4 linked regions of the Homo sapiens genome follow. The protein of the gene in region 3 interacts with the protein of the main gene of each other region in a biochemical or structural test. Each region holds a gene or a part of one and is shown on either strand. Other genes may lie near its edges. The genes, in order: SPEN, RNF111, UBE2E2 and ARIH1.

Region 1 (7,697 bases), on a different chromosome or scaffold from region 3:
TAGTAGCAATCACACATTTTACAAAATATATCCCACAATAGGGATAAAAGGCCTTGAGTTCCTCCAAACAAGGTCCACTTAGCTCCACAGCTGGATCAGCAGGAACATTTCTTGTACATGCAGAAAGATAAACAAGAAACCAGAAATAGACATTACCTGGATTTTGGGGGGTGAGGGGAGGAAGTGTGGCAACTGGGAATTCCAGGGTCAGGGGTGGAGATTTTTCTCTGTATACCTTTCACATGCTTTGAACCCATAAAAATGTACTGTCTATTTAAACAACTAAATAGATTTGTTTAAAAATGAAAAAAAAAAACCTTTAAAATAAAAGAATTTCAGGGACACATGATCTGCTTAGTTTTAAAATAACCTGCTTTTATCAGTAGCATCTGCTTTTACTCTGCAATAGGTAAGATACTCCTTTGAATGCAGTCGTGAGCAAACTGCCAGCTAAGCCGTTTTTAATACAGTAATGTTCCTCCAGACTGCCGCTTTCCAAGGCAGCTCGAATCCTCCGCCCCCTCCTCCCTCTGTGCATTCTGAGATCGGCTCTGCTGATTCCCACATAAAGTGGGTCCTGGCCGCCATTTTAGAAAGTCATTCACACAAGCCAGACCGCAGCACCGTCCACTAAGAACCCTTCCAAAGCTGCCTGGGACGATTTCCTCTTTCTTCTCTCTGCCCCCTCATCTTGCAGAGGGGCCAAACTCCCAGCCATAAGCATGCAATGTCTCTGGAATCTGCATAATGAGAAATGACACGTCTAGGCACATAACACTGAGGAGCGAGCGAATGCTGCAATGCACGTGCTTGTACATCGGTGCATACGAATTTCCCAGGCAGAGACCTACAGAGAAAGTCCACAGGGGATTAAAGTGAGCACATCTAAGTGGTTTTTCCACTCCAATAATGTACACCTAAATGATTTTTCCATCAAAACACTGACGATACTCGAGGAGAAGCCAGGAGGTGGGGGGCGGGTAAGGGGTGGAGCAGCGCCAGGAAGAGAAAGTTCCCATCTGCTTCCCAATCCAGCCCGTGGTCTCCCCTTCATCCTAGGGCACAGAGGTGAATTTTTGCTCCCTGCCTCCCCCCGCCCCCGCCTGGTTTCTCAGGCACGACGTAGTAAACACCGGGAGAGTCCCTGGAAGCGCGCACCTCCCCCCGGCCTGCCGAGGACAGCTCAAGCAGGTTATGAATGGCCCCACGATTCCCGGCTCCTTTTCACACGCGGACACGCGCAGACGCGCGCTCCAGCGGCGAGGGTTTAATGCCCCAGTAACAGCAACCACCAACACAATCAATGATCCTCCATTTAAAAGACAGGAGCTCCGCCGCCGCTGCTTCCATTTCCTTATCCAAGCGGCTCAAAGCGAGCGACGCAATCTATTTTTCCCATGGTGACTCATTAATGAGGACGCTCCATAATTTCCTTCACTCACTACATAGTAAGGGAAATTAAAAGCCAAACTTAAAACCTTCCAGGGTCTTAAATATCGGAATAAACTGTCATTTTCGAGGACAACCACAGATTTGCTATGGTCCCTCTGAATCTGCACCAAGTCCAAGCCAATCGTCATTTTAATAAGTGTTTTATGCGGAGGCCTATCTGTTACGGTACACAGGCATTTCACAAAGAAAACGCACTACACGCTACTCAATAAGATGTATCAACGACAACATTTATTCTTATAATTCACAAAAATATTCAGGGGAGGTTTTTTTTTTAAGCTACATCTTCTCATCGTAAAAGGTTTGGAATGTTTTACCGTTTGATTCGGGAATTCAGGGGTGGGGGGCACCAGGGTCTTAGGGCGGCCTGGGAGTGCGACCCGAGGCTACGGGCGCCGGGGCTAGCAACCTCCTGTCAGACGCGGTCTCCTCCGCCGGGGACGAGGAAGCCCAAACGGGCGCACCAACTTATTTCACACCACTCTCCACCCAGCCCCGCAAAAACGAGAAACGTTTGCCATTCCCAGTGAGTTTCAAGGCTGCAAATCCTCCGGAGAGGTCCTAGATGGTCTCTCCGGGTCCGCGACGCGACCACAGTACCTACTGCGACTTCTGTTTTCGCACCGCCTTTCCCTTCGCACGGAACCCTCCCGAAGTCAGACATTGCCGAGCGCCCGCAGAGCAGCTTGGAGTGGCGGCGCCGGACCCGGCTGTCGGGCGGGCTCGGGTCCCGGCTGCTCCGGGCCGGGCACTGCGCGCAAGGACGCGACCCCGCCGCCCAGCGCATCTCCCACCGACTCCCGGGCTGACGCGAGGGCAGCCCCGGGGCGCCGGCTGCGTGGAGGCCGAGCCTCGGTCACCTCCCTCGTCACGGACGCGGCCGCCGGGGCCCCGCGGGCTCTTCGAAGGCGGCGCGGCTTGGCCGCCCGCACCGCCGACACCCGAGGCCCAACGCCGCGACGCGGGCCGAGCGGCTGACGAGGTCCCACAGCGCCCGTGGGTCCGGGCCGGAGTCCTCCTCACCAGCTCCGCGCTCCGGGAGGGGCCGGCAACGGGCCGGGGCGGGAAGCGGCGCCCGAGGAGCGAGCGCGGCCGCGGGCCTCGTGTCACTCACCGTTTGAAATGCTCGATGATCTTCTCTTCCCGCACGTTCTCGGGTAAGTTGCCCACCCAGAGATGCCTGGTTTCCCGGACCATGCTGGGCGGCGTGCCGGCGACCGCCGCTGCTGGCTCCCCCTCGCCGGCTTCGTACGAGACCGTCAGCGCCGGGAGGCGGGTGCCGGGGCGGCGGCGGCGGCGGCTGCGGCGGTGGCGTCGGCAGCGGCGGCGGCTCCTCCGGCTCCCCCCCGTGCAGAGACCATCCCTCTCCCCCAGGTTCTGACTCTCGGGCCTCGCAGCTCAGCTCTGCCGCCACCACACACCCGAAGCCGACCCTCGCGCTCCGGCAGCGCATGCGCCCGGGCAGGGGCGGGCGGGGGAGCGGGAGGAGGGGCGAGCGGGACACGGGCGGCAGCGACTACGACGGAGCTGGCGCTGTGGCAGCCGGACGCTTCCCACTGGCGCGCGCGGCCCGACTCCCGCCGCCGCACTGCCTCCCCCTCGCCGCGGGCGCGCGCGCGTCCTCCCGCCTGCCAAGGCGGAGAAGCTGAGTTCCTCCCAGCCGGCGCGCAGGCGCGCGGACCGGGCGACGAAGTGAGGGACTACAGGCGGGGAAGGAACGCTCGCGCGCTCGGCCCCGGTGCGCAGGCGCGCAGCTGCTAGTGGAGTCCCGCTGCTTGGCGGGCTCTCGGTCGGGTTCCCGCGCCGGGCAAGGGGCGGCTGAGGAAGCAGGAGCGGTCTTTAGCCCCTCCAGCGGCAACCCCAGGCCCCGGCCTGGTGGAAGATATGAAGAGAAATGCAATTGGTTTCCACAGGGCTACGGGTCAAAGCGGCTGCCAAGGCCTGTCCCCTAGAAGTCAGGACCCCTTCGTCCTCCGCTCACCTGGCGGCCAGCTCCTGGCGTTTCCGGACACTTAGATTCCTGCCTGCTTGGGAAAGCGATCAGAAAAAGGTTGCCCTTCTCACCGCTCTGCTGAACAGCGACGGCTTCAGAAACGCATCCCATCCAAGAGTCACTGGCTTGTAACATGAAGCAACTTTTTTTTTTTTAATACGGGGTCTCGCTCTGTTGCCCAGGCTGCTGGAGTGCAGTGGCACGGTCTCGGCTCACTGCAATCTCCGCCTCCCAGACTCAAGCGATTCTCCTGCCTCAGCCTCCCAAGTAGCTGGGATTACAAGCACCCGCAACCACACCTGGCTAATTTTTGTATTTTTATTAGAGACAGGGTTTCACCATGTAGGCCAGGCTGGTCTTGAACTCCTGACCTCAGGTGATCCGCCCGCCTCGGCCTCCTAAAGTACTGGGAGTACAGGCGGGAGTCACTGCACCTGGCCTAAGCAACTTTTTTATATAGAATCTTGCGAAACCGTTTGCAAGATACCCTTGCTGATCGCTGTGGTATAGAAGGAATAAAACGGAAATGAGACAGGAATCCAATATTGTTCCCCTCAGACCATAATTTAATATTTAAACAGAGAAAGGAATTAGACCTCTGGCCTTTCCAGGCCTAAGAGCTTTTGAAACCTACAGTTGAACTTTCTTTTTTTTTTTTTTTCCTTTGAGACGGAGTTTTGCTTTTGTTGCCCAGGCTGGAGTGCAATGGTGTGTTCTCGGCTTACTGCAACCTCTGTCTCCTGGGTTCAAGCGATTCTCCTGCTTCAGCCTCCTGAGTAGCTGGGATTACAGGCATGCGCCACCATGCCCGGCTAATTTTTGTATTTTTAGTAGAGACAGTTTCTCTGTGTTGGTCAAGCTGGCCTCGAACTCACAACCTCAGGTAATCCACCCGCCTCAAGCCTCCCAAAGTGCTGGGATTACAGGCTTGAGCCACCACGCCCAGCCTCTTTTTTTTTTTTTTTCCTGAGACCAAGTTTCACTCTTGTTAGCCAAGCTGGGGCACAATGGCGCTGTCTCAGCTCACTGCAACCTCCGCCTCCCAGGTTCAAGCGATTCTCCTGCGTCAGCCTTCCGAGTAGCTGGAATTACAGGCGCGCACCACCACACCAGGCTAGTTTTTTGTATTCTTAGTAAAGACGGGGTTTCACCATGTTGGCCAGGCTGGTCTTGAACTCCTGACCTCAGGTGATCTGCCCACCTTGGCCTCCCAAAGTGCTGGGATTACAGGCGTGAGCCACCATGCCCGGCCAGTTGAACTTTTATATAAAGGCCAATTTACAGAAATTCAAGGAAAACCCATAAAATTAAGGTAACTATATCGAGAGAAAAATAAAATTATTTATAATAAAAATACACAGAAATACCAGAGGTGTGCTGCTTCAGGTGCAAGCCAGATTTTTTTTTTTTTTTTTTTTTTTTTTTTGGAGACGCAGTCTCACTCTGTCACCAGGCTGGAGTGAAGTGGTACCATCTCTGCTTACTGCATCCTCCGTCTCCCGGGTTCAAGCAATTCTCCTGCCTCAGCCTCCCAAGTAGCTGGGACTACAGGCGCAAACCACCACGCCCAGGTAATTTTTTTACGTTTAGTAGAGGCGGGGTTTCACCATGCTATCCAGGATGGTTTCGATCTCTTGACCTGGTGATCTGCCCACCTCAGCCTTCCAAAGTGCTGGTATTACAGGCATGAACCACCAGCCCAGCCAATTTTAAATACTTGGCCTCATCGATTATCTCCTTAAATACAAACTAACTTACAAACGACACTATTTGAATTCGAAAATATTGTCACCAAAACCAATGGCACTAATATCTCAGGTCACCTATGCATAACTAAATTGTTTCTTTGTAGTCTCAGCTACTGGAGAGGCTAAGGCAGAAGCATCATCTGAGTCCAGGAGTTCCAAGCTGTAGTGCACTATGATTGTGCCTTGAAAAGCCCCAGCACTCCAGCCTCAGCAACATAGGAGAAACCCCTCTCTTAAAAAAAGAAAAAAAAAAGTAAAATTGGCTATTTACATCTGGCCATTTCTCTGTCACAATTATCACATAAGGAAAGTCAAGCTAACACCCTACTAACGAAACTCATGAACTATTCAGTACTGTGAACGTGGCTGCAGTTAGTCAACTGTTGAACTGATATGCATTTTTCTATGAAGCATGAATTTGAATACAAGCACCCAAGTTTGAAGCAAATTTTAAAATCTGATGTAAAATCTGATAGACTGAATTAGCTGAAACCTCTTGGGAAAGACCAGTGTCACCATGAAGAACAGTGTCACCTCAATTGTATTAAAAGGTGCAACTGACAAGAGGATTCAGAAAAGTGTCTCGCAATTAGAGAAATAAAAGGCATGTCTCGCCTTGAATGGAGGCTTCTGTTAAAATCATGATTTTAAAAAAAAAAAAAAAAGAGCCGGGTGCGGTGGCTCACGCCTATAATCCCAGCACTTTGGGAGGCTGAGATGGACGGATCACCTAAGGCCAGGGGATCAAGACCAGCCTGGCCAACGTGGTGAAACCTGGCCTCTACTAAAAATACAAAAATTAGCCTGGCGTGGTGGTGCTCACCTGTAATCCCAGCTACTCGAGAGGCTGAGGCAGGAGAATCACTTGAACCCGGGAGGCAGAGGTTACAGTGAGCCGAGATCGTGCCACTGCACTCCAGCCTGAGCGACAGAGTGAGACTCAGTCTCAAAAAAAAAAAAAAAAAAAAAAAACCATTTTCACCATTATAGCCAGGTCCTGTAGTCAAATCAGGATATAGTGATTGCATGTCAAGTATGAAGTTTCTTGCTTTTTTTTTTTTTTGGTTGACTGTTTCTATTGCAAAAGCTCTTAATAACAAAACTGATAAGTACATGCCCTTTGCTCAGCCCCAAATCAAGTTTTTGATTTTCTCAGTGCTTTTCATTTTTGCTGACAATGCATCAAAAAACACCAGAAAAGCTTTTCTCCATTTGTATTCCTGTTACAAAGCTTTACAGGGGCAGAACTTCTTTAAAGCATGTATCTTTGTTATGTTTTCAATAGAAAGGCAACCCACTCTGTTATTCTCTGATGTTTTTTTATTTAACAATAATTGATGCTCACTGAAAAAGATCAAAAAGTAGGTTGTGATTTATCTATGATAAACGGATGGTGAAGTGAATTTCCTCATTTGATTACTAAAGATAATTCAGAAAGCTGACATTAAAGCAGAGCCATTTGCAAAGTGGAATTAAAATAGATTTGTTTTTAATCAGGTTTTATTTTCACACTGTGAGGAGCTGCTGTATTTAGCATGCTAGACATGCTCAAAGAGTTCAGTCATGCGTAATGAAAGCTCAGATGGAAAAAGCGTCTGAGCCTCCAACTCAGGCTTTGAATGCTAACCCAGCCAGTAGAGTAGTAAAATAATATCTCCATTTAAACAGGACAGGATAGTTATCAGATTTTAACAAGAATTTGGTTACAAGTCAGGTCCCAAGCTATTAAAATTAAGCTGTTTCAGGAGAAAACATGCACTTAAAATATAAGCATTTTGGCCGGGCCTGGTGGCTCACGCCTGTAATCCCAGCACTCTGGGAGGCCGATCATAAGGTCAGGAGATCAAGACCATCCTGGCTAACACAGTGAAAACCCATCTCTACTAAAAATACAAAAAATTAGCCGGGCATGGTGGTATGCACCTGTAGTCTCAGCTACTCGGGAGGCTGAGGCAGGAGAATCGCTTGAACCCGGGAAGCAGAGGTTGCAGTGAGCCCAGATCACGCCACTGCACTCCAGCCTGGGCAACAGAGCGAGACTCTGTCTCAAAAAAAAAAAAAAGAAAAAAATATATATATATGCATTTCTTCTTTTTTTATTTTGAGACAGTCTTGCTCTGTTGCCCAGGCTGGAGTGCAGTGGCGTGATCTGGGGTCACTACAACCTCCACCTTCCAGGTTCAAGAGATTCTTGTGCTTCAGCCTCCTGAGTAGCTGGGACTACAGGTGCCTGCTACCACGCCCGGCTAATTTTTGTGTTTTTAGTAGAGATGGGTTTTCACCATGTTGGCCAGGCTGATCTCGAAACACTGACCTCAAGTGATCCACCTGCCTAGGCCTTCCAAAGTGCTGGGATTACAAGTGTGAGCCACTGCGCCCAGCCCAAAATATAAAAATAAAATAAAATATATATAAAATATAAAAAAAATTCTTCTTTTTTTCTTTTGAGATGGAGTCTTGCTCTGTCGCCCAGGCTGGAGTACAATGGTGCCACCTCAGCTCAC
Region 2 (7,025 bases), on a different chromosome or scaffold from region 3:
GGTAGACATATTTCTAGTTGATTTTCTGATAATCTCTAAAACTTTTGTAGAAAAATGCCAAGTCATCTATGGCTTTTTTTTTTTCTTTTTTCTTTTGTGTCGGAATTTTGCTCTTGTCTCCCAGGCTGGAGTGCAATGGCGCGATCTCGGCTCACCGCAACCGCTGCCTTGCGGATTCAAGCGATTCTCCTGCCTCAGCCTCCCGAGTAGCTGGGATTACAGGCATGTGCCACCACGCCTGGCTAACTTTGCATTTTTGGTGGAGACGGGTTTTTTCCATGTTGGTCAGGCTGGTCTCGAACTCCCAACCTCAGGTGATCTGCCTGCCTTAGCCGCCCAAAGTGCTGGGATTACAGGCGTGAGCCACTGTGCCCGGCCGGCTTTTTTTTTTTCTTTTAAAATCTTATTTCTTTAGAGTCATGTAAGCAATCATTACATTTTTATTTAAAGTTGAAACAAGTATTCATATTTATAATTGGTGGTGAAGCATCATACCAATAATAGTGTATCACAGTTTAGAAGTAGAGTTCCTCAGAGTTGTATGGATAGTCTTAATGGGTTTTTCCTCCTTTTGCTCACATAAACTTGTTTATGATGTGAATTACTAAATCCCAACCCTAATTTTTAGTTTTGAAAGTTAGTATTTTTTTTTAGCTATCGTATTTTCTTAGTGCAAGGTTTACTAATAGTGGTGTATTCTACACTAGTATCAGGAGTAATTAGCATGCAGTCATCATGACATAGCAATGAAATGATTGGATCGATCTACACAAAGAGGGACTAGTATTATGGTTTCAGTATTGAAACAGTGTGTAACAGCAAGCCATTTATAATGTCACCAAGGAGATATATCTTGTACGCATTTGCCTCCTTTGTAAATTAGATCAGCCAATAATTTTTACAAAAATAAAAGACTAGAATATGGTTTTATCAAACAGCAAATAATTTAGAATATTATCTGTTATATTTGCTGCTTTTTAAGTTAAATGCAATACTTGTGTTTATTTCCTTTTGAACTTTCCTCTTCTAAGTTCAAAATACAGCCTGATACAATTACAGGGATGGATTTTAGAAAAAAAAATTTAGAACATGATACAATACAGCGATGGATTTTAGAAAAAAAAATAGTATGAATTACTCCCTGGGTGGGAACCTCTTAGTTATATGGGATATTAATTTTGCATTTAATGACTGCATGATATGTTAACTCAGAGAAGAGTTAACTGGTGTACAAACACACACCACAGCATACACCAAACCACCCCCCCTTGCTCTCCTCTACCCTTGTCTCATTGGACAGACTAAACTGATCAAAAATCAGAGCAGATTTAACCATAAAGAGTTGATTGCATTGTTTTGGCTTTGGGACATGAAATGATGGAAAAGAAATTGGGTTTAGTTAATTGTGCTGTGAATTGCTTCTTTGTAAATTAATGTATGGCTGCATGTTCTCAGAATTTGTCTGGTTTTTGGCAAGTTTTCATTGCTTCTCATGATCTCCATTATCAACATGAGGACTTAGTAATTACGGATGAGGAGTCTAATTTTTAAATCTTCAGCCCATAAAGACTCCAAGATCTCCTCCTCTGAAATCCACCAGAACATAACTCTGACATGGGTTTCTGGAAGAACCCCAGCTGTTTCCAACATACATCATGAGACTTCTGTTGCTGATGGAGTCTCTGATGCCTAGAAATCTTGATACTTTTCCTCTTGACTTTTTCACTTTTTTTAAACCTCTTGACTTTCTGGCAGGAGTTTTATTGAGATTTTATTTCACTGGGTTTTTAGTATATTCACAGAGTTGAATAGCTGGCACCACAATCAGTTGTAGAACATTTTCAGTTCACTGAAAATAAAAGAAATTCTATACCTTTTTTTCTTTTTTTTTTTGGGAGACAGAGTCTTGCTCTGTTGCCCAGGCTGGAGTGCAATGGCGCAATCTCGGCTCACTGCAACCTATGTCTCCTGGGTTCAAGCGATTCTGCTGCGTCAGCCTCCTGAGTAGCTGGGATTACAGGTGCCTGCCACCATGCCTGGCTAATTTTTGTATTTTTAGTAAGACAGGGTTTCTTTTCACCATGTTGGTCAGGCTGGTCTCAAACTCCTAACCTCAGGTGATCCACCCGCTTCAGCCTCCCAAAGTGGTGGGATTACAGGCGTGAGCCACTGCACCTGGCCCACCTTTTTTTTTTTTTTTCCCCACTCTTGTTGTCCAAGCTGGAGTGCAGTGGTGTGATCTCAGCTCACTACAACCTCTGCCTCCCTGGTTCAAGCAATTCTCCTGCCTCAGCCTCCTGAGTAGCTGGGATTACAGGTGCACGCCACCATGCCCGGATAATTTTTTGTATTTTTAGTAGAGATGGGGTTTCACCATGTTGGCCAGGCTGGCCTCGAACTCCTGACCTCAGGTGATCTGCCCGCCTCGGCCTCCCAAAGTGTAGGGTTTGGCCACCGCGCCTGGCCAGAAACTCCATGCTTTTCGGCCATCATAGTTGAATCCTCCGATGATCCCCAGCCCTAGGTAACCACATTCTATCTATGTAGATTTGCCTATTCCAGACATTCCATATAAAGGGAATCTTACATTATGTTATCTTTTTGACTGGTTTCTTTTACTTAGCATATTGTTTATCCATGTTGTAGCTTGAGTCAGTATGGTAGTCTGCGCCCCTGTCCAAGGGGAAACCATTCTGAGTCCCCCAGTGGATGCCTGAAACCATATAGTGTTTTTTTTTTCATATACCTACATGCCTATGATAAAGTTTAATTTATAAATTAGGCAGAATAAGAGACTAACAACAACAATAAAGTAGCAAAATTCTAACAACATACTGTGATAAAACTTATGTGAATGTGGTCTCTCTCTCATAGTGTGAGTAACTGAAGCTGTGGAAAGTTAAACTGGATAGTGAGGGACTACCGTACTTCATTTCTTTCTATTGCTGAGTAATAATCTTTTGTATGGATTTATTTATTCATCAGTTGATTGGCATTTGTGTTCCCACTTTTTTGGCTGTTATGACTAATGTTGCTGTTTATAAGTTTTTTTATGAATATGTGTTTTCATTTCTCTTGGGTACATACCTAGGAGTGGAAATGCTAGGTCACATAGCAATTTTGTGTTTAATTTTTTTTTTTTTCTTGAGATAGAGTCTTGCTCTGTTGCTCAAGCTGGACTGTAGCGGTGCAGTCCCAGCTCACTGTAACCTCTGCCTCCCAGGTTCAAGCGATTCTCATGCTTCAGCCTCCCAAGTAGCTGGGATTACAGTCAGTGCGCCACTATCCTGGCTAATTTTTGTATTTTTAGTAGAGATGGGGTTTCACCATGTTGGCCAGGCTGATCTCGAACTCCTGGCCTCCAGTGATCCGCCCGCCTTGGCCTCCCAAAGTGGTGGGATTACAGACATGAGCCACCGCGCCCAGCTTGTATTTAATTTTTGAGGATCTGCTAGACCGCTTCCCAAAGTAGCTTGTATCATTTTACATTTCCATCAGCAATATATGAGGGTTCCAATGTTTTTTTTTTATGCATCCTCTCTAACACTTGTTATTACCTGTGTTCTTTATTACAGCCATCCTGTTTGGCCCCATTCAACTCTTAGATCACATGTACCTGTGTTTTATCATTGTGACTTCTGTGTTCTTGCCTTTAATTAAAGTGATCCTTGTCTGACTGGCTGCCTTCTGTAATTTGCTCATTGCCATGCTCATGTTCACTCATCTTTGTATTCCTGGTTTATCACTGATCCTGCTGAACTACAGATAGCGCGTGATGGCTGATCTTGGATACAGCACTGCCTGTGCTTGTGAATAAGAATAAAAGAAGATAGTGGTTTTGATAGCTTTCTGTAGGAATAGGTCATTCTATGCCTTAATTATTGTCATTTGTTCTGATAGTAAAGTTATATACTATAGTAACATGGGAGACCTGTAAGATTATATATTTCTGTAACCCATTTGTAGAGAGGGAAAATACTTGCTTACTAAACAGCTGTTGTACTCGCTTTTTAGGAACTGGTTTCAAAATGTATTTTATGGGCAAAACAAATCTGTGGTGTCAGAAGTTACAATAGTGGTTAACAGTTTGGTGGGCTGTAGTAATGGGAAGAAGATTTCTAGGGTGCTGGTTATGTTGTTTATCTGTGTGCCAGTTACATAGAGGTGTTCATTTTTTTAGTGTTCATTCATCTATAAACTTAGAATATGTGTGTATGCTATACTTAATAAAAACTTGTTAAAAATATGTTAACATTGTTTATTCATGTTTTGCACTAGTAAAGCTCTTCATTTGTCACATTTACTGCCTTTCTGATTAATATATTTCATTTTGAGTCATGATATTTACTATTACATTATTTTCATATGTACATTGCATTGATGTAAATGCTTTAAATTCAGATCTCTTTTTGGCAGCTCGTAATTTAAGATGTTGAATGATTTAGATAGATTAGCTGTACAAAGTTTGATTTTATGTTCTGCTGTATTGTTTATTTAACTGAATGATCTTCAGCAGCCCACAGTCTTGGCTCTAATCTTTTTGTATTTAAAACTGAAATGCAGTAGTTGTGTCTACTATCAGGAGAATTCAGATTCTCATTAGAGAATTAATAGAGTAGTATGAAGGAAAAAAAATAGAAAAGAGAAGCTTATATTCATTAGCTCATTATTAATAATATCAATCTAATGTAGTAACCATCTAGATGTACAGAAACATTTAATAATAACCACTTAAAAATGTCATACCAGGAGTAAAACATGTTGACTAATTAGTCTTTTGAATTCGAATCCTTTTATTTATATTTCACTGAAATAGGTTTTGAAGTAATTGTTTGATTTGACCAAATATGTTTTGTTGCTGAAGGTAGTGAGATATGCAATAAGATCAGTTTTTGGTTAATAGAAGTTTTTAAGTAGGCTTATGCTCTATATCTACTGTATTTCTAAAAATTGGATGCATGAGTAGAGTGACCAGAGAAAAACGTTTTATAAGAATAGTAAAATAATTCATAACAGACATTTTGTGTACTGATGAGGAAAAGACAGTTCTGCCTTTATAAGGGATCTTCTTGGTGGAATTTGAGAACTCTTCAATTAAATAGTATAATAAAACACATTAAAAATCTTTTAAATATCTAATTTTGTCTTCTAGGCTTTCCTTAAAGTTTCCCATGTCTCAATGGACTCCTGAATATAACGAGCTCTACACCTTAAAAGTGGATATGAAGAGTGAGATTCCTTCTGATGCACCAAAGACACAGGAGAGTCTGAAAGGGATCCTTTTGCATCCAGAGCCCATTGGGGCAGCCAAAAGTTTTCCTGCAGGAGTTGAGATGATTAATAGTAAAGTGGGGAATGAATTCTCTCACCTGTGTGATGATTCTCAAAAGCAAGAGAAGGAAATGAATGGTAACCAGCAAGAACAAGAAAAAAGTCTCGTTGTGAGGAAAAAACGCAAAAGCCAGCAGGCTGGCCCTTCGTATGTGCAGAATTGTGTTAAAGAAAACCAGGGAATATTAGGACTGAGGCAACACCTAGGGACACCAAGTGATGAAGATAATGATTCCTCTTTTAGTGATTGTCTTTCTTCTCCTTCATCTAGTCTGCATTTTGGAGATTCTGATACTGTGACTTCAGATGAGGATAAAGAAGTCTCTGTAAGACATTCCCAGACCATTTTGAATGCTAAAAGTAGAAGCCATAGTGCACGGTCTCATAAGTGGCCTCGGACTGAGACAGAATCTGTATCGGGATTGTTAATGAAAAGACCCTGTTTACATGGCAGTTCGTTACGGAGACTTCCATGCAGAAAGAGATTTGTAAAAAATAATTCCTCACAGAGGACACAGAAACAAAAAGAGAGGATATTAATGCAGAGGAAGAAACGAGAAGTGTTAGCTCGAAGAAAATATGCCTTGCTACCTAGTTCTAGTAGTTCCAGTGAGAATGACCTCAGCAGTGAATCCTCTTCTAGCTCATCAACTGAAGGAGAAGAAGATTTGTTTGTTTCTGCCAGTGAAAACCACCAAAACAATCCAGCTGTTCCCTCAGGTAAAAATGTTTAAGCTGAGTAAAACATGGAACCTATTGCATTGCATTTGTGCTTAATTTTTTGTTTGTGTCTTACTGATTTTATTTAAAGGGACTATCAGGTTCTATTAACTTTTATTTTTAAGTCATATAAATTACCAATTGCAGTATTAAACCATGACTCTAATGCTAAGATAAAAATTTAAAAAATTTCTAGTGACAAAAATAAGTCAGAGTTTTTTGGGAGAATAACCCTTCATTACTTTTTTTTTTCTGAAACAGAGTCTCACTTTGTCACCCAGGCTGGAGTGCAGTGGCGCAATCTCGGCTCACTGCAACCTCCGCCTCCTGGGTTCAAGCAATTCTCCTGCGTCAGCCTCCCAAGTAGCCAGGATTACAGGTGCCCACCACCATGCCCAGCTAATTTTTGTATTTTTAGTGGAGACGGGGTTTCACTATGTTGAACAGGCTAGTCTTGAGCTCCTGATCTCAAATTATCTGCCCACCTCAGCCTCCCAAAGTGATGGGATTACAGGCATGAGCCACTGTACCTGGCCTCATTTATTACATTTTATACATATTAGATTATATTTTATGTATGTTCTTCATTTATGGTACACATTTTTTTCCTTGTGTTTCTTTAATATGCTTGACTGTTATGAATACTTTTTCAGCTACCTGTATGATGGATTCAGCCATAGTAAGAACAGTTCTAGTCACTAAAAAAGACTGGTTAATTTTTTTTCCTTTGTTTTTTTGAGGCAGCATCTGGCTTTGTTGCTCAGGCTGGAGTATAGTGATGCAGTCTTGGTTCACTGCAACCTTCACCTCCTGGGCTGAAGCCGTCCTCCCACGTCAGCGCCTCAAGTAGCTGGGACTACAGGCCCACACCACCACACCTGGCTTATTTTTGTATTTTTTGTAGAGATGGGTTTTGCCAAGTTGCCCAGGTTGGTCTTGAACTCCTTAGCTCAGGCGATCCACCTGCCTTGGGC
Region 3 (7,025 bases):
TTAAAATATTTAGAGGTGGATGACTTATGCTTATAAATCCTGCTTTTCAGCAGTGAAGGTGTTAATGGTTCCTTAAATGAGACCAAGAGTATGGTAGGGTCTGTAACTGTATGGTGCAGCAGGAGTAGGAGTTTCCACTACGCTTTGTTACACTAATAACCCTGAATTATCAATCAGCAAGTCAGCGTGTTTTAGAAACTACACCACCCACGTTTCCTCTGCCTCCTATAGCTGCACACTAAAATAGCCTGAAGGTGAAGCCAGACAGACACCCTTGTCATTGAATGGGCTGACCGTGACCAATACAGTTGAGTTTACTTCTTTTGCTAAAATCATGGAGAAAAAAGAGCAGCAACAACAACAACAACAACAACAAAAATGAACAATACAAAGCTTGAGGGCAATCACTGTAACAATTTTGAGAGAAATAAAGTTGAAAGTGGCTGAACACAATGATTAGCTCAGACTTCACTTTCACAAGAAGGCTATTTTTGGAGTTACATATTTTAATTGTTGATAAAGAAGGCTGTAACAGAAAGAATGCCCAGTCAATATGTAAAATGATAGCAATTTACTATAACAACCATAAAATCATCAGGCTACTGACAGCTGGAGAAATTCCACATGCTAAGCAACTCAACTCCAAAGAAATATTAGAGGTTTGAGATGAAAAATACACTTGAACCTGTAATTGAATTAGACAAGCCTCACTGCACGTAGGGCTACAGCGGTCACCAGGACACAAAGCAAATGTCGGGTTACCAGAAGTGCAGTTATCAGCCACAGTGATTTATTGAGTGCTTTAATAATACAAGTGTACATCAACTGATCCACAGTCAAAAGTGGCAGGTCCCTAAGAAATTTACAAGCACTTTAAGTAAATCAAAATACATATTATTTTGTTCAATCCAACAGTCTTCTGCGGGAGGGACAGAAGGCTAGTGATAAACAGAGTCTCAGTAATGCACAGTGATTCTGATTGAAGCTTTTGTACAAAAACTTGTTCCCAGTAGCATGCACCCACCAATAAAGACTTCAGTACAAAAAATTAACCCTAAGCACTACATTTAAGTAGAAACGAGATATAATTCTGAATGTGTTTTCCCAAAGATCACATAAAAGAAAAAAAAATCAAAATCAAATAAACAACAACAAAAAAAACAAAACCACACAGTAATACAAAGCTTTGTAAGAAAGCTCTTACTATTACAGCTCCAACATTGTTTGCACTGAAAACAAAAGTTCCCATCTATGATGAGGTGGGAAAAAATCCCAAATCTTTCAAGTTAACAGAAATCAACAAGGGAATAAAATGAGAGATAAAAGAGAGCGTGGGAGAGAGGAAGGGGGGCAGGAAGAACTGGGATGGGAAGATGGACAACATACCATCACAAAATGGTTCCAAATTTAATAAAAATAGGAAAATAAGAACCGAGGTCTGGAGGGGTGGGCAGGGCTACCGATGCACTTGGTGAATGTGCTTGCACAGGTCCCGCGGGGCGGCAGGCAGCAGGCCCCTATGTGGCGTACCGCTTGGTCCACTGTCTGGCCATCCGGTCATGCTCTGCTCTGTTGGTCATGTACTGTGTGGCGATGCTGCCCACCAGAGGGTCAGCTGCAAGGAAAGCAGAGTTGGGAGTCAGTAAATACCAGCACTGTGGGGGAAGAAGTGTTCAGAAAGCTGGCAAGGAGTGGGAGGGTAGGAGATGAGAAGCTGCTGTTCTAACCTGGACCACCATTGCTGCGGCTGAGCCAGTCACCTGCTGCTGACAGACTACATTTCACACCAGCTGCCCCAAGAGTCACCTATCTGTATTTTACTGATAGCTCTTGTCATATTTCTTGACAAGTCTTATTCTCTTTCCCTGTACCCACCACATACTTCTCACCTTGCTCCCCTCGTATTGGTTTTTTTTTTTTTCTTTTGAGACAGGGTGTTGCTCTGTCACTCAGGCTAGAGTGCAGTGGCATGATCACAGCTCAGTGTAGCCTTGACCTCCTGGGATCAAGCAATCCTCCTCCTGCCTCAGCCTCCTGAGTAGCTGGGACCACAGGTGTGTGCAACAACACCTGGCTAATTTTCAAATTTTTTTTTGTAATTTTGGGGGTCTCACTATGTTGTCCAGGATAGTCTCAAACTCCTGGGCTCAAGTTATCCTCCTGCCTCAGCCTCCCAAAGTGCTGGGATTACAGGTGTGAGATGCCTGTCTTCAAGTAGATATTTCACGGAGAAAATGCAGGTGGGCTGTGGGCAGGGGACTCATGGGCTCTTGATGAGCTCTCCTGGGAAGACGTTTGGCGGTCTGGACAACTCCTTACCCTAGGCTAGCACCACAGGCAGGTGGCATTCTCCTGCCAGATTACCTTATCTGAGGAGACGCCAGAGTCTGAGCTGGACAGTCAAAAGAGGGGAGAGATGGTCCACTTCTTCCTCAAAATTTGGTAACATCCAACCTACATAGCTCATTATTACAAAAATACTAATAGATGTTAATAATAGCTAACACTCACCATGACTAACCATGTCCTAAAACTCTAATATGTTAATGACATGGATTTCTAAGGAGCTGACACAGGAGGAAATTGGAGCATAAGGAGGCTGAGTCTCTTGCCCAACGTGGAGAAAGGGGTGGAGCAGGGCTTGGAGCCAGAGTTCACCCTCTTAACTAACAGGGTGCTGTTAGTTAACAGGGTGCTTAACTTAACAGGGTGCTGGGAGATAGCTCTCTATCCAGAATATTGATTGGGTCAACGTTTAATTAAAAAAATTGGGGCACGGTGGCTCATGCTTGTAATATTAGCACTTTAAGAGGCTGAGGCAGCAGGATCGCTTGAGTCCAGGAGTTTGAGTCTGTAGTGAGCTATGATCGTGCCACCACATACCAGCCTGGGTGACAGAGTGAGACCCTCTTTAAAAAAAAAGACAAAAAAAAAAAAACAAAAAAACAAAAAAACAAAAAGCAAAGCAATTAAAAAAAAAGTAACTTAGGTTCCTAAAGATCCCAGATTCTACTCTTTTCCCTCCAATTCTCTAATTTCACTCTTTCCCCGATTTATATTTCCCCTATTTTTGGTATTGGGAATTTGGGTATATTAGAGCAGTCAGGTAAGGAGGATCCACTAGGGAAAATGAGAAAAATCATCAAAAGCTAATGTTTGGTAGGAAAAAAATAGTAGAGAATATGGAACTACGTCTGTGGCCCAACACCACCGGCAACTTGGGAAGATCCTGAGACTAACCTTGTAAGGCACTCATGGTCATATGTTCTCAATATGAAAGGTATAATAGAAACACCACTTTTTAACCTATCTGCTGAAGCTCATGATAACAAAGCCTTTGAAAGCCTGCTCAACAAGACTTGCTTAAGTTTTCCTGGAATTGTGTAAATCTCGTAATAATTATTCCAGGGAGAAGCCAGTTTCCTACATTCACTTATATCACAATTAGTAGACTACTTAGTATGTGGGTTTGTTCGAAACGTTTGCCTCTCTGCCTACTCTTTGTGATTCTTCTTCATTTTCTCAGATGTTGAAATGAAAACTCTACCATTTCACCCAGTCCAGTCAAGATTCAACAAGATTTAAACCAGCACTACCAAATACAGACACAAAATATCTGGCAATTGGCCAGGATACTTTTTTAAAAATGTAGCCTTTCACTTGAGCTTAAGTAATGACATTAGAGTAATAGGGGCCAAAGTGAAATCTGAGTCACATTTCTCTACCTTCAAAAAAAGTAATCTTGTTCTGATTCCTGGCATTCTAGAATGCAAAGAGTAGGGTGAAACGTGGGCATCCTTAATAGTTTAAGTCTGTATCACTCAAGATAGGTGTTTAATTAAATAGAACTTATATTAGTGAAACACATTGAAGATCCATTCTAACTTACTGATGAAGGTAAGGCTCAATGTCAGAAGAATAACACTGACTTATATGTTCCACCTCAAACTGTACCCACATCCAGAGTGTACACACTGGGAATAAGACAGGTCTGCCACTTCAGCTCAAAGGGGGTGGAGGGAAACAAATGAAGAATAAAGGGAACAAGAAGCTGTGGGGTGGGAAAATGTGTCATATCAACTGTTAATAGTATTTCAGTACAGGCAAAAGGAGAAACAATTAAAAACAAGTTAGAGTGCTGGTAACAATTAGCGTGCGTTGTGCAAACTTTTTTTTGCATGCTTAACATTTAATTGCTTTCAAGGTTCTTTTACGTTTTCAAATTTGATTAAAAAATTTTTTTTCCACCTGTAAAATTATACACACTAACTATAAAACAGTAATTAATAATAATTTAGAAAACCACCTCAGACAATATGCAAGACAGGAAGTTGAAAGTAAAGACCATCTCGTGTATAAATCCACGCAAAGAAAACTGCTGTTAACATCGTGGTATGTTTTCTTCCTACACTTCTAATCACATGATGTAAAAAAAAAAAAAGGGATTAATTTATAGTCTGCTTTTGTAATCTTTTAAAAAATAACTATGATTTTTATACCGATATGGTAAATAACTTTTTACATAGATAATTGTAGATCTACTTCATCATTTCTAATACCTGAATTAAGAACGAATTTCCTGTTTTTAGATGTTTGGGTACTCTCCAACTTTTGTTTTAAAAACAACGATGTGAGGACCATTACCATGCATGCATCTTTGGAAGTTATACAAATCTTAAATTTGTTTAAAGTATAAAATGAAGGGATAAAGTAAAAATACACAATGAAGGAATTAAAAAAATCATGTTATTGGCTGGGTCAGATGGCTCACGTCTGTAATCCCAGCACTTTGGGAGTCTGAGGGTGGAGGACAGCTTGAGGCCAGGAGTTCAAGACCAGCCTGGGCAACACACTGAGACCCCCAACTCCACAAAAAAATAACAAAAATTAGCCAGGTGTGGTGGTGTGCCCCTGTAGTCCAGCCTACTTGAGAGGCTGAGGTGGGAGGATCGCTTGAGCCCAGAAGTTTAAGACTACAGTGAGCTGTGATCATGCCACCACACTCCAGCCTGGGTGACAGAGCAAGACTCTGTTTCTAAAAAAATAAAAAAGACCACTAACAATTAGTATTTGATGTTCACTTAAAATTCTATTCAACATAGTAACTATCTTCTCATATCAATTTACATGTCCCTATGATTTTCTGAATATTACCCCCAGTAGCAGTGCTGATGTTTAAGCTAATATTTCATGAAAGGAGAAAAAGGCTACAAACTACTTTTTCATATGCTGCACATAAAGATTCAGCTCAGTGGAATAATCCTGAAGAGCTAGTTGTGAAAATGGATCTCTGCTGAAAATGGTAAATTGTATATGCTTAATTAAGGGAGGACTTTTCAATGTGAAAGTCTGAAAATACTGTTTCTTAGCAGAATGTTAAACTTAATAAATGGTAAATAAAAGTCATGAATTTAGCAACACTAAAAGGTAATAAAAAAAAAAAACATGTTATCAACCAAATAATTTTTTTTTTTTGTTGAGACAGTTTCACTCTGCCATCCAAGCCAGGCTCCAAACATAAATTACTGTACCCTATTTCTCTAACAAGAAGAAAATATTTCCCATCATTTTGGGTTTCTAGATTGTTACTATTTTCCCAAATCTTTATTAATATTTGAGATTATCATCTGTCAGTTTTCCTCATTTTTACTAAAGAAAAGCCACAAAATTTATCAGTAGATAAGTAAATTGAAATCAAAGCCTCCCACATTTTCTGTTTTTGTTCAAAAATTATTTACACTTTTGAAAAGAGGAGCATGTTCAGACTTATGCAGAACAGAGTTAGATGACTTCAAGTACTTAATTCTCCCAAACACCAGTACGGCATGTATTAGAGGTTTCCTGAGGCAGAAGTATAGGATCTACAGTGTGGTTAACAGAATATCATAGAGATGGAAGTTAGGTATACAAAGCTTTCCTCTAAATCACATTTCCTCATCTGTTTAATAAAAATCATGTCTTTTTTTTTTTTTTTTTTTGAGACAGGGTCTCACTCTGTTGCCCTGGCTGGAGTGCAGTGGTGGGATCATAGCTCACTGCAGCCTTGACCCCTGGGCTCAAGCAATCCTCCTGCCTCAACTTCTTGAGTAGCTGGGACTACAGGCACACAGTAGCATGTCCAGTTTATTGATTTATTTTTTTTGGTAGAGACGGCAGATGTTGCCCAGGCTGGTCTTAAATTCCTAGCTTCAAGTGTCCTCCCACCTTGGCCTCCAAAAGTGGTGCGATTACAGGATGAGCCGCTGCTCCAAGCCAGCATCATGGCATTTTTGTTAACAAAATACCAGTCATAAAATAATAACCTGAATGAAAGCGTAAGACTGCAAGATCACTGATGAAGGGGAACATACCTTCTTCTTACTCACCTCTACTTCCTCTATCTCACCTCTGTCTCCCTACACAATTTAGAAGCAAAGAGTACATACCTGTCAACTAACAATCACTATTATTTGCAAGCGAGTGAAAGACTGTCATACCAACTGGGCACAGCGGCTCATGCCTGTAATCTCAGCACTTTGGGAGGTTGAGGCAGGAGGATGGCCTGAGCCGAGGAGTTTGAGACCAAGCCTGGGCAACACAGTGAGAACCCATCTCTACAAAAAAAAAAAAAAAAAAAAAAAAACAAAAAACAGCTGGGTGTGGTGGCATGTACCTGTGGTCCCAGCTTCTTGGGAGGCTGAGGTAGGAGGTTCACTGGAGCCCAGGGGGTCGTGATTACAGTGAGCCATGATTGCGCCACTGTACTCCAGCTGGGCGAAAGAGCGAGACCGTCTTTCCAGAAAAAAAAAAAAAGATTGTCATATTGCGTAATCTACCTCTTCGCATTTTTTGAGATCTGTGGTATGTGCACCTTTGATTCTAGAGGAAAAAGGCTCAGACAACTCCCACCTTGCCTCTTTAATGGATGGAGCTACACTGGGTACCCTGGAAGCCAAAGGGTTTATAGTCCCACCTAGAAAAGGGAGGACAGAGACAGGGAACAAGACTAAAAGGGATCGATGGATGTAGATGCAAAAATCCTCAAC
Region 4 (7,025 bases), on a different chromosome or scaffold from region 3:
TGTGCCACCACACCTGGCTAGTTTTTTTGGTAAAATTAGCCCCAGTACAGACGGGGTTTCTCCATGTTGCCCAGGCTGGTCTCGAATTCGTGAGCTCAAAGCAATCTGCCTGCCTCAGCCTCCCAAACTGCTGGGATTACAGGCATGAGCCACTGTGCCCAGCCTGGAAAAAAAATCCACTTCTAATCTAGCAAATTTTGTGTTCTTGTTTACTATTTTAGCATTAATAACACCAAGTGACTAACATTCTCCTCATGAGCGCTATGCTAGGAATAAAAGCTTGCCACGGTGGAATTATCTAAACTAGAAGAAATCAATACCATGGATCCCAACAAAAATCAACAAAAGGGACCACATGTTCATTTTATCTGATATATTTCTGGAAAAAAATGTTTGCCATAGCAAAATGGAGACGGGGAGCCAAGCAGCAAAATACATCCGTAGTGAGGTACAGAAAACAGTATCCACTAGAAATCTTTTCAGGAAGGGTGCCATTTTGGGTTGGAGAAACTCCTTGAAAGTTAATTTGGGGGAGAAGGAGAGTCCTTGAGGGACCAGGGTAAGGTCAGAACGTTTCCTGGGAGAAAGGGGGAACATTTCTCTGGCTAATAAGGGCACAGTGCCGGACAGGGTGAAGAAGAAAAAGTCAGTCAAGAGTGGTACATTTCAGAGCATGAAAGGCCTCACACTGCATAAAATAGACTACACCTTAAGACTTCCAATTTTCAGTAAGACTCTTAGGCCCATATAAAATTCAGGAGCCTGTGGATTTTTTGGTGTGGAAACCACTGAAGAGGCAGATTGTACATCTAAATTGCAAGGGCGAGACTTAAGTATGAATTGGGAATTTAGAGTGTAGCAAATTAGTCAGACATTAGATAATAAGTAAGCAAAGTTTATGAACAATTCACCAAGAAATACAAATGGCTCTTTAACATATGAAAATATAACTGTGCAAGGAAAAAAAACATGCAAATTAGTTTCCAAGAGATACTTTCCATTTCTTGCATTGGCAAAGAACAAAAATTTCACTGACATAATTGTGAGGACAAATGCATTCACTAGTGGGAATTCATAAAACTTCCATTGAGAGCAGTTTGGCAATAACTACCAAAATTAAAAATGCACATAATCTTTAACTGAATTATTTCAATTCTAGTAATTTATTCTATAGGCATAGATGTGGGAAATGACTTTACATACAAAGGTATTCAATGCAGCATTATTTGTAATAACCAATGCCTAAAACCAACCTAGATAGAGGTTAAATAAATTATAAGTCCATATTATATGGCGCATGAAAAAGAAAGAGGCAACTATTTACATATTAATATTGAATAATTGCCAAGATATATTATTAACAGATAAAGTGCAGAAAATGCATATAGTATCTGTATTAATAAAAAGGCAAAAATAAAGAGGAATATTATATACATAATTGCTTGTATACTTAGAAAATATTTCTGGAAGGATATTCAAAATGCTAAAAGTGGTTCTAAAGAGGAGAACTGGGTAGCGGGGGGACAGGGAAGAGAAGACTTTTTACTCTATACCTTTAATACATTTTGAATTTTGTACTATATGGATGTATTACCTACTCCAATAATAGCGACTAAGAAAGTGAAAAGCACAACATACCAAGAATTGTGATAAATGCTAAGAAGGAGAAATATAGAACAGTTAGAACAAACAATGGGGAGCCAATCTAGACTTGTTTGGACAGGGAAATTTTTCCTGGGTAAGAGATGTTTAAAATGAGACCTAAAGGGTAAGGCATTAGCTTAGGGAAAGGGGATGAAGACATGTGCAGGCCAGGAAAGAATTCTAAGGCAAAGGAAGAACTTGTGCAAAGGCCCTGAGGATGGAAGAATCTCAGCCAGTTTGCAGCACAGAATGAAGACCAGTGTGAAAAGAGAAAAAGGTAACAGGGTTGGTTGCAATAGGAGAAGAGGTAGGAGTGCAGATCCACAAAGGCCATATGAGGAATTTTATTTTAAGGGCATTGGGAAGGCACTAGAGAATTTTGAGCAAGGAATGGCATGGTCAGAATGAACACTTAATAAACTCATGTTAGCTCATGAGTAGAGACTGAATTGGGAGGGGGACAAAAATTGATAATCTAGGGTAAACTAAAGGATGCTGCAAATGAGATGATGAAACACTTCACTTGGACTAGTGTGATGGCAAAGGAGATGGAGAAAAAGTAAATGGGTTCTCAAGTTTAGAGGTGGAAAAACCTCCAATACACATGATTGGATATGGGGGAATGAGGGAAAGGGAAATGGATGTTAAAGGAAGATTGCCAGGTTTCTTACTTTGAAAGCTGCTGGATGAGTGGTACAGCCAATTACTGAAATGGGAAGACTTAAGGACAAAGATGTTTGTAGAAAGCTCATGAGGCTGTTTCCCAATATGTGAAATCTCCCTGAAAGGGGTCCTGTGAGGAGCAAATGACATTCTTTATTCAATAACTAGAAGCCATTGCTATAATGTTTCAAAATCTCTCCTTTGACCTCAGATCTTGTGAGGAAGATAGAACACTTTCTGTACCAGGGCCTTTTTCAATAAGAAAGGACATTGGTTTCTCAAATTGCAATCACTAAACCTAATGTACTTTAATTATATACATAATTAGAACAATCTCTTTTTAAAAAAACATAATAGGTTGGATACTATGGTTCACACCTGTAATCCCAACACTTTGAGATGCTGAGGCAGGAGGATTGCTTGAGCCCAGGAGTTCAATACCAGCCTGAGCAACATAGTGAGACCCGTCTCTACAAAAAATTTTAAAATGAGCCTGGCATGATGGCATGTGTCTGTAGTCCTAGCTACTTGGGAGACTGAGGAGAGAGGCTCTCCTGAGCCCAGGAGCTCAAGGTTGCAGTGAGCTATGATTGCACCACTGAACTCCAGCCTGGGTGACAGAGTGAGATCCACTGTAAAACAAACAAACAAGAAGTATGTTCACAGGAAAATCCCAGAAATCACATAGAACATGTTTCTTGTGTCACAGATGGATCTTCATTTCCCTTAGCAAATCTCCTCAAATGTGACCCTGCTTATCAAGATTATTCAAATCATATAGCTGTGCTGGGCATACAAAAAAAATGGCATTTATCTATTTTTATGGTGGGGGCTGAGGACATAGAAGAGGAATCAGGCATCGGTAACTTTTCAACACCCCCAATATATGTATAAACAAGGAGCTACAGTTGAGTTTTTACATTTTTAATGTTTTATCATTTGTACTGACAAGGTCCATAGCCAGCTTTGTTCTGATGCCACCTGCTGGACAAGTCTGTAACATCTTATTTCTCTTTGGAAGTGTCCAGTCCTCCCAAAACCTATACCACAAACGCTTGAGAGTCCAGCCAACACTGGGAAATATCACTTCAAAATAATATGAAGCTTCACTGGACTTCATGGAGGATTTTCAGTATGCCTATTCTTGATGCTACAGATATACTCAATAGCAATCAATGGTGAATGTGGACAAAGGCATAATACTGCATTGTTTGTGAGAAAAAATACTGGAAACATGGAAATGTCCATCACCAGTAACTGTTTAAATAAACTAAGATACATCCATATTAAGACATATTATGCAGCCTGTAAAAGTCCTCAGGTTGTTAAAATAGTTACATAAAACAAATAAAGTGTAGAAAATATAGTATGCTTCCATTCATGTTTAAAAAAATAATAAGGGGGAGGCCAGGTGCAGTAGCTCACGCCAGAACTATGAGAAGTCGAGGTAGGAGGCCAGGAGTTTGAGACCAGCCTAGGCAGCACAGTGAGACCCCTGTCTCTACAAAAAATAAAAAATAAAAGGAAGAGATATTGACACATTTTAGAAATACAGTTTGGAAAAGAAAACACAACCAACTGGTAAGATATTTGTCTCTGTGGAGGGAGTAGAGGCACTAGGGGAGTTAAGATGGGAAGGTGTTGCTTTTCTTTATGATTCTACAAAATTTAACTTTGTATTATCCATGTACTTTTACTTTTGAAAACAGTTAATGAGGCCAGGAGCGATGGCTCACACCTGTAATCCCAGCACTTTGGGAGGCTGAGGCGGGTGGATCAACTGAGGTCAGGAGTTGGAGACCAACCTGGCCAACATGGTGAAACCCTGTCTCTACTAAAAATACAAAAATTAGCTGGGTGTGGTGGCGGGCGCCTGTAATCCCAGCTACTCAGGAGGCTGAGTCACGAGAATCACGAGGCAGAGGTTGCAATGAGCCTAGATCGTGCCACTGCACTCCAGCCTGGGCAACAGAGCCAGACTCTGTCTCAAAAAAGAAAAAAATACTAGCTAATGAAATATGTAAATAAAACCATTGTTTAAACTCCCATTCCTAACCAGGCATGGTGGCTCATGCCTTTAATCCCAGCACTTTGGAAAACCAAGGTGGGAGGATCACAGGCAACATAGCGAGACCCAAACTCTACAAAAAAAAAAAAGCCAGGCATGGTGGCACATGACTGTGGTCCCAGCTACTCAAGAGGCTGAGGCAAGAGGATCACTTGAGCCCAGAAGGTCAAGCCAGCAGTGAGCTATGATCATGTCATGGCACTCAAGCCTGGGTGGCAGTGAGACGTGTTTAAAAAAAAATTTTTTTTTTTTTTTTTGAGAGGGAGTCTTGCTCTGTCACCCAGGCTGGAGTGCAGTGGCACAATCTCGGCTCACTGCAACCTCCGCCTCCCAGGTTCAAGCAAATCTCCTGACTCAGTCTCTCAAGTAGCTGGGATTACAGGCGCCCACCACCACACCTGGCTAATTTTAGTATTTTTAGTAGAGTTGGGGTTTCACTATGTTGGCCAGGCTGGTCTCAAACTCCTGATCTCAGGTGATCCACCTGCCTCGGCCTCCCAAAGTGCTGGGATTACAGGCATGAGACACTGTGCCTGACCTAAAAAAATTTTTTATTAAAAAAATAAACTCCTACTTCTGAAATTCACTAGTGATATGAACAAAGTCACAAGGAATATACCTCCCACTCTAGCAAACAACAACAAAAGGCCAGATGAGCTAGAAAATAAAACATATGTTTAATTCATCAGAAAGCTAAGGACACAAAGAAATCTAGGTTGGGTGCAGTGGTTTATGCCTGTAACCCCAGGACTTTGGGGTGCTGAGGCAGGCAGATCGCTTGAGCTCAGAAGTTTGAGATCAGCCTGGGCAACATGGTAAAACCCTATCTCAACAAAAAATACAAAAATTAGCCGGGTGTGGTGGTACACGCCTGTAGTCCCAGCTGCTCAGGAGGCTGAGGTGGGAGGATCAACTGAGCCAGGAAGGCAGAGGTTGTAGTGAGCTGAGATCACTACAGGCTGTACTCCAGGCTGGGTAAGAGTGAGACCCTGTCTCAAAATAAAAACAAAAACCAAAGAAACCTAAATGATCCAAACTCCAGAAAGTGCCAAGTCCTTCATAGGAGAGAAGAGACCCCCTAGCTGTTGTTATTCCTAGTTGAACTATGGTAGGAAGAGGAATACTACAGGGGGGAGAAAAGAGAAACCTGCTGAAATTTAACAACATTTTCACAACCCCTTGGAGGCTGGTTTGACATTAGAACCTAGATGACCCAAATCCACAGAGGAAGGCTTCCCACCAATCTTACCCCTTAGATGATAACCAGGTACAGGAAGGTGTAGTACACTAAAGGTGTGGATAATAGAAGGAACGCTGAGAGAGCTTGACTTCTCCCAAGGGCAAAATACCCTTTAAAAATGAAAGGGGAGGCAGGATTGTTGTGAAATCCAACAGAGGCACTCTTGGAGCCTAAATGGGGTCAGAAATGCTGAGAAACCCATCCCCTAGGCATTGTGGGCATTCCTCTACAAAAGGGCAGGGCACACATGAGAGCTGAGAAAGATCCTCCTATCCCCAGCCCATTGATTAAAAAAAAAAATCCTGGCAGCAAGGTTGTAAAGTAGGGAAAGATCTCCCACATTGATAAAAGCTGGTGGCTTAGCTATGAAGCAAAGTCAGATCTCTGGAATCTTGCCAATGCCCAAAACTCAGGCCCTGGTGATATGAGAGTTCTGATTCTACGTTCCTTCAAATATTTGAAGCTAGAGGCAAACTGAATCAAACTAAAACTGCAGTGAAGCCCCAGTCTAGAATTCATATACATCAGATTGAGCCACCATTCAAGTGGCCTGAAAAAAAAACAAAGGGCATGCTCTGTTTTGGAAGTAAACATTTTCTTCAATTTCTTTTTTTTTTCAACATAAAACGTCCATCATCCAATCAAATATACAAGACGTGCAAAAGCAAGAAAATAAGATTCATGGTAAGGGAGAGGAAGGGCTCAATAGAAGCAGAACTAGAAAAGACCCAGATGTTGAATTATCAGTTTGGATCCTTAAAATAACTGATTAAAAATGAAAGAAAAAACAGAAAAAACCCAATAAAATAACTGATTAAAATGCTAAAAAGTAGAATGGAAAATGTGGAAAACATGCATGAAGAAATAGGAAATTTCAGCAGAAAATTGTAACTATACAAATATAATGAAATGCTAGAAATAAAAATATTAGAAATGAATAATTCAGTACAACTATGTATCCATAAATAACTAAAAATAAAAATTTTTAAATGGAGAATTCAATAAACAAGTTTAACAGGTTAACATTGGAAAGCATCAAAAAACTTAAAGATGGTTAAATGGAAAGTATCCAAACTGAAAACAAAAAGAAAACAGGGCAGGGGAAAAATCATCTGAGATCTGTAGGTTTATATCAAATCATCTAATATACATGTAACTAGAATCTCCAAAGAAGAGGAGAAGCAAGAGAGTATGAGACAAGAGAAAAATGTAAACGGATAACGGCCAAGAAAGAACCAATATTAATGAAAGACATCAACACAGATCCAAGAAGTTCAGTAAACTCTATACAAAGAAAAACATACCTAGACATTCCCTAGTCAATCTACTGAAAAGTAAATATAATGCACAGATGCAGCCATTGAGAACAACCACACATTACGGAAAGGAAATAAAAATTAAAATGATGAA

The links.
Region 1: the proteins of UBE2E2 (region 3) and SPEN form a complex in vitro, tested with the Homo sapiens proteins (one study listed by BioGRID).
Region 2: the proteins of UBE2E2 (region 3) and RNF111 form a complex in vitro, tested with the Homo sapiens proteins (one study listed by BioGRID).
Region 4: the proteins of UBE2E2 (region 3) and ARIH1 form a complex in vitro, tested with the Homo sapiens proteins (one study listed by BioGRID).

The regions. Positions count from the first base shown.
Region 1 is NC_000001.11:15,843,020-15,850,716, reverse strand, and holds the start of SPEN (msx2-interacting protein), read right to left. Parts: upstream 3,011-7,697; 5' UTR 2,650-3,010; coding exon 2,567-2,649; intron 1-2,566. UniProt on the Homo sapiens protein: May serve as a nuclear matrix platform that organizes and integrates transcriptional responses. In osteoblasts, supports transcription activation: synergizes with RUNX2 to enhance FGFR2-mediated activation of the osteocalcin FGF-responsive element (OCFRE).
Region 2 is NC_000015.10:59,025,652-59,032,676, forward strand, and holds part of RNF111 (E3 ubiquitin-protein ligase Arkadia), read left to right. Parts: intron 1-5,152; coding exon of another isoform or gene 5,153-5,171; coding exon 5,172-6,051; intron 6,052-7,025. UniProt on the Homo sapiens protein: E3 ubiquitin-protein ligase. Required for mesoderm patterning during embryonic development. Acts as an enhancer of the transcriptional responses of the SMAD2/SMAD3 effectors, which are activated downstream of BMP.
Region 3 is NC_000003.12:23,584,324-23,591,348, reverse strand, and holds part of UBE2E2 (ubiquitin-conjugating enzyme E2 E2), read right to left. Parts: intron 1,616-7,025; coding exon 1,518-1,615; 3' UTR 1-1,517.
Region 4 is NC_000015.10:72,596,321-72,603,345, reverse strand, and holds the end of ARIH1 (E3 ubiquitin-protein ligase ARIH1), read right to left. Parts: 3' UTR 359-7,025; downstream 1-358. UniProt on the Homo sapiens protein: E3 ubiquitin-protein ligase, which catalyzes ubiquitination of target proteins together with ubiquitin-conjugating enzyme E2 UBE2L3.